Homo sapiens: one gene and its partners. The protein of the gene in region 3 purifies or fractionates together with the protein of the main gene of each other region. This does not show direct contact. Each region holds a gene or a part of one and is shown on either strand. Other genes may lie near its edges.

Evidence for each region.
Region 1: the proteins of PATL1 (region 3) and NBDY purify together in Homo sapiens (co-immunoprecipitation; one study listed by IntAct). This does not show direct contact.
Region 2: the proteins of PATL1 (region 3) and XRN1 purify together in Homo sapiens (co-immunoprecipitation; one large-scale study listed by IntAct). This does not show direct contact.

The regions. Positions count from the first base shown.
Region 1 is NC_000023.11:56,815,436-56,819,706, forward strand, and holds the end of NBDY (negative regulator of P-body association), read left to right. Parts: intron 1-1,884; 3' UTR 1,885-3,744; downstream 3,745-4,271. UniProt on the Homo sapiens protein: Promotes dispersal of P-body components and is likely to play a role in the mRNA decapping process.
Region 2 is NC_000003.12:142,445,146-142,449,262, reverse strand, and holds the start of XRN1 (5'-3' exoribonuclease 1), read left to right. Parts: upstream 1-1,225; 5' UTR 1,226-1,318; coding exon 1,319-1,393; intron 1,394-4,117. UniProt on the Homo sapiens protein: Major 5'-3' exoribonuclease involved in mRNA decay. Required for the 5'-3'-processing of the G4 tetraplex-containing DNA and RNA substrates. The kinetic of hydrolysis is faster for G4 RNA tetraplex than for G4 DNA tetraplex and monomeric RNA tetraplex.
Region 3 is NC_000011.10:59,655,386-59,659,037, reverse strand, and holds part of PATL1 (protein PAT1 homolog 1), read left to right. Parts: intron 1-91; coding exon 92-172; intron 173-1,313; coding exon 1,314-1,508; intron 1,509-2,437; coding exon 2,438-2,539; intron 2,540-2,992; coding exon 2,993-3,082; intron 3,083-3,297; coding exon 3,298-3,515; intron 3,516-3,652. UniProt on the Homo sapiens protein: RNA-binding protein involved in deadenylation-dependent decapping of mRNAs, leading to the degradation of mRNAs. Acts as a scaffold protein that connects deadenylation and decapping machinery.

The DNA of each region.
Region 1 (4,271 bases), on a different chromosome or scaffold from region 3:
GTTTTCTTTATCATTTATAGAAATTTAAAGTATGATAACAGGTATTTCTTGTTGAGGTGATTAGCTTGTCTCTCATACATTGGTGTTTGGAGAATTGTTTACTGAAACATTTGAAATGGTAATCCACAAATTGTTTAACTTTTTTATTATACCATCTGAGAATATGTTTGCATATTTGTGAAAACAATTGGAAACTGTCTCAGTTATGTTCATTTTGAGAATTACTATGTTTTGGTGGACACATTTGCTGGAATTTTGTGCAGATATTTTTAAAATATTTAAGTTTATGTGGTTACTATGAGATATTATTAAATAAATAAAACATGTTCGGAGTAATGTGTATAATACAAACTCATTTTTTGTAACAACAAACAGAAAGAGTTACATGTTGGTAAGTATATGTGTCTTTGATTGGTTATGGAAAAAATTATTAGGCATTTATTCCATACTTTTAACATCTTTTAACCTCCACAGATTTAGAATTGTTTTTCTGGAAGAAATTGTTAATCTTCTCTTTTATACATTTCATGTTGTTTTCCTCATTTTAATGCCTTCGTATTATATTTCTAAATATAATTTTCTTTTATAAAACATGCAAATTTTATACGAAGAAAAACAGCATAAGTAAACTTAAAGACTATTTATATACAATGTGGTTCCATTTAAAAGATAGATAATGGATGCCATTAATTCATAGAATATATAATACATTTCTTTATGTTAATACAGAAACAAAGCCTGATAGAAATATAGTCAAAGAACAGGCAATTCATAGGAGACAAAAATATATGGCCAATAATAATAATAAATATAGTTGACTTTAATATTAGGTCATCATATTTGCCACAATCAAAAAAGTCTCCAGAATTCTCAGTTTTAGAAAGGATTTGGTTAAATATCTACTGTCTATAAAATTGTACGTTTCTAAAGTATTTTATCTCTATCGTAATTTTAATGTTTGTAAGTTTTGACTTGTGTTTTATTTGTAGAATATATGGAAATAATTCTACATATCAATAAATTGGCTTGCTTGTAGTAAAAATGTTGCAAGCATATTAAATATCTTTCAACAGAATTTGAACATCTTTCAACAGTTAAAATTATACTGTAACACGATGCAATATTTTGAAGCCATTGAAATATTGAGACTGATCTATTTTTATATTAAAAATTATTAAGACATTTATAAGTGAATAAAAACAAATTGCCGAAGTGTATGCTAGGATGATCTAATTTATATTATAAACTCCAAATCTAAATTATTATATTATTATAAATACTATATATGTGTACATTTAAATAGAAATAAAAAGGTCTAGACAGAATTGATAACTATGTTTTCTTCTGTAAATAGGAGAAAGACTGAGGAATGGTAAAAGTTTAGCAGTAAGAAGAATTATGTCTATGTTGTTTGAATTATATACAGTTAGATTGTATTCATGTATTTATTCATGTATTATTTGTGTAAATAAATAAATAAATATAAAATTTCCAAGGAATATAGGAGTTTGTCAAGGGGCTATGAGGGAACAATGAGGCTGATTGATTAGTTTTGGAAGCCTAATAAAACAAGAGTAATAGCGGTAGACATCCCTGTACTTTTTGGGGGAGAAATATGCCTAAGATAATAGAAACATCTGGTCCACCTAACAGATAAATTATTTTGCATTCAAATACATTAGATACCAAAAAGATGCAGGTTATTGACATTGTATGCCTTTGATTTAATATTTATTAAGCACTCATCTAATAATTTTGCATTCTCTTTAACTTGCTTAATAGGGAAATTGGGGTGTTTTCTGCTCAACAGACATATCTGACCTGTATGATAATGGAATTTCTCATTATAAGTCAATAAACTTTTGTTCTTTCTGTATCTTTCAGTCTTATGATGTAATCAGCGCGATTTCACTTCCTGAATTTCGATGAATTCTAAGACATGGGCAAGATCGGGTTGTAAGACCTCTGAGATTTAAGGCCATGCCCTGGATCATGGTGAACTTACCAAAGCAAACAATGCCTGTGAGATGGTCCTGCAGCAGCCAACCAGTGAACTCTTTTGGTGACATCCTGTTCTTGTTGTATAACTTTATATTCCTATAAATCCATTAAGGCCCCAATAAAGTTTGTCTCTAAGCGCTGTGTTAGATCTATATGACTACATCTAGTAAATTGTGAATTTTAAGTAAATATTTTATAAGAACTCCTATGTAAAGCATTACTAAAATTAGTGTTGAAATATGACCTTCTTCCTACATTTATTCATTTATTTATGTCTATTTATTCATTTATTTTAGTGAAAAATATAAGGAAAGTAGAGGAAGGTTAAATCCAAAAAAGAATTGTTTCCAGTACACTTTCTTTAATTTGCTGTCAGTTTTTGCATGGAATCTACATCTTTTTATGCTAATCCTCATCCTAGTATTTTACATCTTAACTATTTTTTTCTGACTGAAATGGTTGATGTGCTTGTTTTTTGTAATTTTCTACTTTCCTTCTAAAATGCTTAGTATTGAACAAATAGAATATCCTAATTAAAAACAGTAATAAATATTATGGTGAAAAAATACAAGTAAAATGGGAAAACATTAGATAGCAGCTTTCAATATTTCATATAGTTCATAAATGTTTCAGGAATTACAAGGTTATAGAAAAAAATTTATAGACTATAATAATTTCCAGGGATATAAAAAAATAAAGCTTCTACCTTTGAATTGTAATAATAAAAGATAAACAGACTTGAAAGCATATATTATATCTGAAAATGTCAGATAAACTTGGCTTATAAATTAAAATATAAAATAATAATACAATTTGTTCAAATAAGTAATTAAAGCTTACATTGTAAAATGAATATTTAGAGAGATTGTGAAACCTGAGTATTTTACCCAATCCTCTGAAATTAGTCCCTAGCATCAGAATTAAAGAATCTGAAAAATCACAAATGGAGGTATGGTGACATTTATGTATATTCTAGAGTTATGTTATGCACACTTAATAAATTATAGACAGTTATTTTAAAGATTGTATAATATTACTAATCACACATTAGAGTTTTAAAACTTCTGAGCCAGGCTGAACATCACAAACAGTAAACACAGACTTCTTTAAAAGGACATCTGGTGAAAGGCATTTTATGCATCAGAAGGCACAGTATTATAAAGATGACAACACTCTTCAAAATAATCAAACTATTCAATGCAACCCTTATCAAAATTAAGGTTGCCTACTTTGAAGAAATTTATAACCTGATTCTAAAGTTCATATGAAAATGTAATGGACCCAGAATAGCCAAAACAATCTTGAAGTATACAAAGTTTGAAGAGTCACATTTCCAAATTTTAAAACTTATTACAAAGCTACAATAAACAAGTCTATGTGGTACTGGCATAGGATATAAATATTGATCAATGAAATAGAATCCAAAGTCCAGACATAAGCCCTCACAAAAGTTAATTTGCAGCCAATTAACTTCTGAGAAGGAGGCAAGACAAAAGGGGAAATAACTATTTTCAATAAATGGTACTGGGACAACTTGGTATCTACATGCAAAAAAAAAACAAAAAAACAAAAAACTTCCACCCCTACCTCATGCAAAATACAAAAATTAACTCAAAATAGGCCAAAGACTCAAATATAAGGGTTACACTATAAAACTCTTGGGAGGAAATATAGAATAAATTTTTGTGACCTTGAATTAAGTATTAGATTTTTAATTCTTACACCAAAGCACAAGTTAATAAAGGAAAAAAAAGATAAACTGGACATAATTAAAATTGAAAAAAAATTTGCTTCAGTGAACACAGTCAAGAAATTTGAAAGACAGCCACAGTGCAAGATTATTTTTGCAAATAATATGTCTCATAAATGACTTGTATCTAAAATATATAAGACCAGGCATGGTGGCTCATCCTGTAATCCCAGCACTTTGGGAGGCTGAGGCAGGGGGATCACTTGAGGTCAGGAGTTTGACACCAGCCTGGCCAACATGATGAAACCCCATCTTTACTAAAAATACACACACAAAAAAAATTAGCAGGGTGTGGTGGTGTATGCCTGTAATCTTAGCTACTCAGGAGGCTGAGGTGGGAGGATAGCTTGAACCTGGGAGGCAGAGGTTGCAGTGAGCCAAAATTGCACCAATGCACACTCCAGCCTAAGCAACAGGGCAAGACGCCATCTCAAAAAATAAAACAAAATAATAAAATAAAATAAACAGTAATTACCGCTAAATAATAAAACAAACAATAAACCAATTTTATAACGAAAGG
Region 2 (4,117 bases), on a different chromosome or scaffold from region 3:
TTAAGAAATAAACTGCTTTCTTAATACATACTGTGCATTATAATTGGAGAAATAGAATATCATGTGTTCTTATGGTCAAAAACTATATTTGCAAGAAACAAGCAAGTCTAATTTCATTTTACAACTTCTATTGATTTCCTTTTAAAAGTCCTAGCTATTGTAAGGATTCACTTGAAGAACAAAATTATATGGAATAAATACTGTGGGCAAGGCGTTGTGCCAGACTTGTGCATAGAGCTACCCTCTCCTGCCCTCCAGGAAGTGACAGTCTAGTAAGAGAGATATATAAATATAAATAGCATATCATTAAGTTCACTTAATAAAACTTTGTTTTAAAGTGTGATAGGGAAAAAATATAAGCCAAGAAGCGTGAATGTGAAAACGAAATAAACATTCTGTAATTTGTGTGATGCTGCCATACTGCAGTCCCAGAATGCAGAATCCAGTGGTCATGAAAGACAGCGATACTTAACATTTCCTGAGATCTTAAAATCCAAAAAGTATTAAATGTTTAAGGTTTTTCTGTAAGTTTTCATCCAGAAGACTTAAATACAAAGTAACGGGTTAATACATTCAAATAAGTGGAAAACTCTTACATTTAAAACTGATAATTTCACTTAAGTTGATAGAACTCTCCTTTGCTGTGCGGTTGAAAGTGTGATGGGGAAAAATATGATAAACCCGGATGCAAGAATGTCAAAACTAAACATTAAATGATTTCGTATCCAAGGTCTTATGTTAACAGTTGCGGGGGGCGGGTACATGGGAAATTTTTTTGAACAATTTGGAAAAGAACGTTTTTAAACGTATGTATTAAGAAACGTAAGTTTAAATTCCTCAGAGAAAAAAAATTATTGACAAAACAACAAACTAAGCCAAGTAAATCACCAGATCTTTCGAAATCTGAATGAAAAATACTGAGATTAGCAACCCTAGGAGACAAGCGGAACAAAAATCAGTGTTCGATACCCTTCCCACACCTTCGTACGGTTTTCATGCCACTTCCAAATCCACTTAGAAAGCACAACTCTATCATGGGGCATTTTCGCCCCTAAGTTGCAACACACCAGCAAACCTCCGCAGATTCCCTGACCGCCACTGGACAGTACCGCGGCCCCGGCCGCGCGAGGCCCGGAGGGCTAAGCCCCGCCCCTCGGACGGCCTCGGATCCTGCCGCTCTAGGCCCGCCGGGCGCTCTCTATGGTCGGCCGGGCGGTGTGTTGTCATCCGCGGAGCGACGACCGGAGGCTGCGGCGGAGCCCCGGCGGGGCGTTTGGTTTCGGTTTGGCCCTGACTGGGATTAGTGTTGACGATCGAAATGGGAGTCCCCAAGTTTTACAGATGGATCTCAGAGCGGTATCCCTGTCTCAGCGAAGTGGTGAAAGAGCATCAGGTGGGTGAGCGAGGGGCAACGGCTCAGAAAGCCGAGGACCCGGGGCTCCGCGGCCCTCTCCACCTTAGAGCTGGGGCTTTCGAGCCACCTCTTTCCCCTCGTCGTCTGGACGATTAGTGGCATTAGGGAGGGGGACGGAAGGTTTGAGGACGCCCGGATGAGCCGAAAGGGGCTAAGGACGCAGGTTGCCTGTGTGTGGACAGAGCCGCTGGGTTCACGGCTTCTCTGACAGCTCTTGCTTCTGCTGGTCCTTCCGCGACTCCGAAATGAAGTCCTGGGAAAGAACGCTTTTACTGTTCTCCGGTTTCCTCCCGGGGAGCTGCAAGTTGCCTTTTTCCTTACAGAGGCTGCGAAGCTGGAGTGGGTGTCCTCGTAGGTTCCCCCATCCCACCCAGAGCGGCAGACCCACTTACAGACGATAACAGCCGCTTCCGCACGCAGTCACCTTGTTTACTTTCCCTGATCTAGAGCGCGGCCCACCCGGCCCCCGGAGCCTAGACTTTCCGACGTGGCTGATGGTCATATTGGTGATGCCTTTTGTTACTTTCTGTTATTTCAAAAGCAGCACCAATCCCCTGTTGCCAAAACAAAAAACTCTTGGGCCAGCTGGGGAGTGGGGCGTAGGACCTTTTATTTGGAGGCCTCACTGTGTGACAGAGGGGGTTGGGAAACGAATTGATAGAACATTAATACTACTAATAATATTTGGCATGTACTGACCCCAGGACAACGTTAATGTGTAGATTCCGAAAACGTAGTTTATATATTGGAACTGTGGAAAGAGAGGAGAAAGCAGTCGTCTATTAGGTAAACTAGACTTTGGGTGATACTTTGGTGTTTGTCACATTTAATGAATTTGATCTCTTTTCTGATGCTTTACAGAAAAAAAGCTTGAAATTTGTGTAGCTGATTGAATCAGTTGTGATGGGTAGTATTGTAAATAGCCTATTAAATTATGGTTTAATCGGCATTTACGAACATGAAGGTAGTTTACTTCTGGAAAGGAGTTTTTGTTGCTGGATTCCAATCAGATTTGGTAGATGAGAAATAGACTACAAAAAGTTTCCAAGGTTAGCTTATCTTGAATTTATTTGAAACATAGATTGAGTTAGGTTTAGAGAGGTATTTTTTTCCCCCGGGGAGGGCTAAAAAGGAAACCAGTACATTGCAGAAATGGAGACAACCAACTTTGGCTTTTCTTGCATCCTTCAGTCAGTACCTGCTATATATCAGTCACTTTATCTCTAAAGTGCAAAAATAATGCGATTGTTATTCGTGATGATTTAATACATAATTTGTTCAGTAATATTTTTATTCTGTAGTCTGTGGCACAGAATTTGGTTTGGTGAAAATATCTTAGATTCTCTCCATCCTGAGGAATTTTGTTACTGAAGAATGAAAATCTCTTTAATGCAGTTTTATGACATGGACACTAAGGATAGGTTTTGTGAAAGCTTTATATAGAAACTGGGAGGAGAATTATTTTTAAATTTCACTGTAAATAAATTTTAAAATTTGGTTCATTGTTGTGATACCTTTCAAAAATGTTTGATTAAAAAGAGACCAAAGGTTATCAGCTTCTCTGTTAAGTAGAACTTAAAGATGGTAATGCCTAAATAAGTCACAGGCATTCAAAAGCTAGTCCTGGGCGGGAAGGATAGGGAGAAGAAGTAAGTTACGGGAAGTCAGTGGTGTGGCCTCAGTAGCATAGGTTTTCAGTTTCTCTGAATCATCTTGTAAAAACAGAAAGAGAAACTAGAAACCAAAGTTTAAAATCCATAAAACAATTACAACAAACCATGTGACATGCTATCCCCATGAAACTCAAAACATAACTAGGTGAGGCAAACTATCAATAGTCTCTAGACACCGTTGATATTGCCATCTGTGCAAAAGCGAGAAGGAAGCAATGGGGCAACATCTGATGAACCTTAGAACAGAATTCCAGAATAGCCAGCGGTATCCACTAAAAGACTGTGCTGGCCAATTAGATAGCGGTAGCTGAAACAGAGGAGTTTTATTCACTCCATTATTGACTGGGTGAAGGTCTACCATAAGAAAGACCAAACAGGCAGGAGTAGTCTACCTCCTGTGAACACTCAAAACTGACTTGCCAAGGTGCCATTCTAGACCAGAGCCCTAAGGAAAAGGGAGTGGAATAAAGTCTTACGGAAATGTTATGCTGGAAGTGGAATAAAATTTTATGAAAGGGACAATAGAGACAAGAAGAGAAGGAGATAGACCATATAAAAGTGAGGCAAAGTCATAGAATCAAGAAATCTTAGAAAACAAACCACAAAGCAAACCACTGTATTTTTTAACACTACCCAGAAACAGCTTTGTGAACTTATATTCCCTGAACCTCTACTCATTCTAAAAGTTCAAGAAAATTAAATTCACATAAAAATGAGCTACAGAAAGGTATTGAGATCAAATTACATACAAAGTTATTATACGAGAAAAAGGGACAGAGTATCTCTCCAGACATAAAAACTTGCAATGAAAAAAATGCACACAAAATAGACCAAAATTATAACCAAAACTATTATCTATTTCACAATGAGTTAAAAGGCATTAAGAAAATGAGGTAAGACATGAAAGAACAACGTGTATCAATTATGAAAATGTGAGAATGAGATGACAGAGAAAGTTAGAAGTAAATGAAAAAAAAATGCAGAGCTGAGCCTCAAATAGAAGCAAGACGAGCAAATGATACCATTTGAG
Region 3 (3,652 bases):
GGCTCTTTTGGAACCTTGTTCCCCAGCAGCAGATAAGTCACCCAGAGAGTATACAACATTTCAGACTCTGTATGTTTTCCTTTTTTGTTAGCCCCAACCAGGAAGTCTGAATTCCAGTATCTGGGATGGATCTGAAGTTCTGAGGCGAATCCGAGGACCACTGCTTGCTCAGGTATTAAATATTTTCTCTTTACATAAAATTTATAATATCCAAAAATTTTAAGTTCCTGTCGTCATCCTTTCCTTACTGAAGGGGTTTATAGGTCTTTCATTTGCTAGAATTATGTCGACTACTGCATCCAGCACTTAGCTATGCCTTTCTTTAGCCTCCAGGGTAAAGGTTGCAAGGGAGCCATTGGAATTTAAATTTGTTAGTGTATGATTGTGATTTGAATCACTTAAAAAGTCATATCTGAGCCAGGCGTGGTGGCTCACGCGTGTAATCCCAGCACTTTGAGAGGCTGAGACAGGTGGATCACTTGAGGTGAGGAGTTCAAGACCAGCCTGGCCAACATGGTGAAACCCCATCCTTACTAAAAATACAAAAATTAACCAGGCGTGGTGGTGGGCACCTGTAATCCCAGCTACTCAGGAGGCTGAGGCAGGAGAATCACTTGAACCTGGGAGGCAGGGCGGAAGTTGTAGTAAGGCAAGATTGCGCCACTGCACTCCAGCCTGGGCAACAGAGTGAGACTCTGTCTCAAAAAAAAAAAAAACTCATTTCTATGCAAAACTATAGGGACAGAGAGGTCATCAGTGTTTACTAGTGGTTGGACATGGCAGGAGGCGTTAACTACAAAGGAACAATACAATGGAATTTCTGGGGAGTGATGCAACTGTTCTTGCTCTCTCTTTCTTTCTTTTTTTTTTTTTTGAGACCAGGTCTTGCTGTGTCAACCAGGCTAGAGTGCACTGGTACAGTCATAGCTCTCTGTAACCTTGAACTTCCGGGCTCAAGTGATCCTCCCACCTCGGCCTCTTGAGTAGCTGAGACTACAGGTGCATGCCACCATGCCTGGCTTAGTTTTTTTATTTTTGTATAGATGAAGTCTCGCTGTGTTGCCCAGGCTAGTCTCAAACTCCTGGCTTCAAGTGATCCTCCCACCTCACCCTCCCAAGGCGCTGGGATTTCAGGCATGAGCCGCTTACCAAACTCAGAGAACCATATACCAAAAAGTGAATTTTACTATATGTGAATTAAAAATAAATAAAAAGTTAAAAAAATTTCTTAAGGTATTTTTGGCATCTGTAGAGATTACTAAAACATACCAAGTTAGTTAATTTCTATTTTATTTTACCACTTCCTCAATTAGGAAATGCCTACAGTGTCTGTATTAGAATATGCTTTGCCTCAGAGGCCCCCCCAGGGTCCAGAAGATGATCGGGACCTTTCTGAACGAGCATTACCAAGGCGGTCAACTTCACCTATCATTGGCAGTCCTCCTGTTAGAGCTGTCCCCATAGGCACCCCACCTAAACAGATGGCTGTACCCAGCTTCACCCAACAGGTACCTCTCATTAACAAGCACACAGCCCAGGATATTGGGAATCTGGGCAAAATTATTTGGAAAATTGGTGATGTTGGGTGGAGGGTGGAAATTTTGGGTAGGCATTAGATTAGAAAGAAAAATAGCTAGTTAGAGGAGAAATTAGTACAAATAAGAGACACATTCCCTGATACCCTTTGCTGCTGCTATTGCTGCTGCCTTTTAATTGGGGGAGAAAAAAGGGTAGTTAGCCACATTTAGCACATATATCCTTTTTGAAGTGTTTTGCTGGCTGCCCAAAACATTGTCAGAGAGATAACTGAAAGCCGGGGGGAGTGGGAACACACAGCATTGTCCACATCCCTTTTTACCTTTAAGATATCCCTGCTTTCCCTAGAGCCTGTGCAGTCCTGTTCCATAGACTTTCCTCCACCTGAAACCAGCAGCTGAAAAGGAAGGCCAATTTGGAAGGTATGGGGGGAGGGTGGTGTTGGTATGGCCTAGTTAGGCTCAAATCCTATGAAATGGTGGAGTCACAATGTATCACAAAAGTGCTGAGCATGGCGGCCATATCACAGGGGCTTCAGAATAGGACTTAGTTAATCCTCCAGCTTTCTTATCATTCCTTCTCCCTCAGTGCTACCAAAATATATCCTCTTGGAGAGAATTTGCAAGTCAGAATATCTGCTGGTATCTCCCTCAGACAGCATGGAAGGGTGGGGATAACTGGAGAATTAGCTAAATCTTCCTCAGTTAATGCTGACACTTTACTTGATTTGTGAGAGAAAGTGGCCCAAGGTTCTGTATTTGAACCTGTAGCCATAGCAATTTGCTTAGAAGTAGGGCTTTGCATTGAGTTCGTGTCTCTACCAGTACTTGAGGGGAGGGAGTGTAGGTGGAAGAAAAACTGATTTCATTGAGTGTAGTTGTATATATGTTTGTCCTGATAGATTCTGTGTCCGAAGCCTGTCCATGTTCGGCCCCCAATGCCACCTCGTTATCCTGCTCCCTATGGTGAGAGGATGTCTCCAAACCAGCTCTGCAGTGTCCCGGTATGTCACTTTAAGCCTAACAAAAATGTGCAGTATGTATTTTCTGATCACTATTTGTAAGATCACTGCCAGTATTTAGATTTGCTGACATCTCCTAAATTATACCTATTTTTTATAATCTCCTTACTTAAATTGCTGGATCTAATTGTCCCCAGGTCAGAGGACAGTTGTTTCTTACATCAGCTCTTTTCTTACCTTTAAAAATCTAAACTCATTGTGATCATCTGGTTCCTACCATTTCAGTCCCATGTTCTACTGCTTCTTTTTCATGTCACATGGTCATGGTGTTTTTATAATTTCTAGCATTACTCTTTTTTTCTATTCCAGAGCTTGACTCTGTAATTTGAGAGTTTTTATATCCAAGTTTATACTGCATTTCTGCTGAGTTTCCTTATTATGATGTACCCCCTGTTTTATAGCATATTCTTTTTTTTTTTTTTTTTTTTACCTTAGAACTCTTCCCTCCTGGGTCACCCTTTTCCTCCTAGTGTTCCTCCTGTTCTCAGCCCCCTCCAGAGAGCACAGCTTCTTGGAGGAGCACAGGTAAGCCTGTGATTAGCCCTACCCATAAAGAACTCTCCTACTTTCCTAAAGTTCATTAGATAATAGCCCCTTTTTTTGCTGTTAATCACTACTTTTATTTTTGCCTTTACTTTTTCAAACAAAGTTATTGATGGAAAACCGTATTCACTTTTCTGTAGACAAAAGCAAGGGGACTTGCTGATTGTCTAAATCTAAGATCTTCTTCCTCTTTGTAGCTACAGCCTGGACGGATGTCTCCCAGCCAGTTTGCACGGGTCCCTGGATTTGTTGGTAGTCCACTTGCTGCCATGAATCCCAAGTTGCTACAAGGGCGAGTTGGGCAGATGCTTCCCCCAGCACCAGGCTTCCGTGCCTTCTTTAGTGCTCCACCCTCCGCTACACCACCTCCACAGCAGCACCCTCCTGGCCCAGGACCCCACCTGCAAAACCTAAGGTATACAAAATCAACGCCACTGTTTATCAGTTATCAGCCAAGTCTCTTGATTGTGGATGTGTAGTTTTATAAGTCTCTTGATATTTGCTAACTATAAATTTTAAGATGTTATTGGATCCTCAAGTTGGCAAACATGG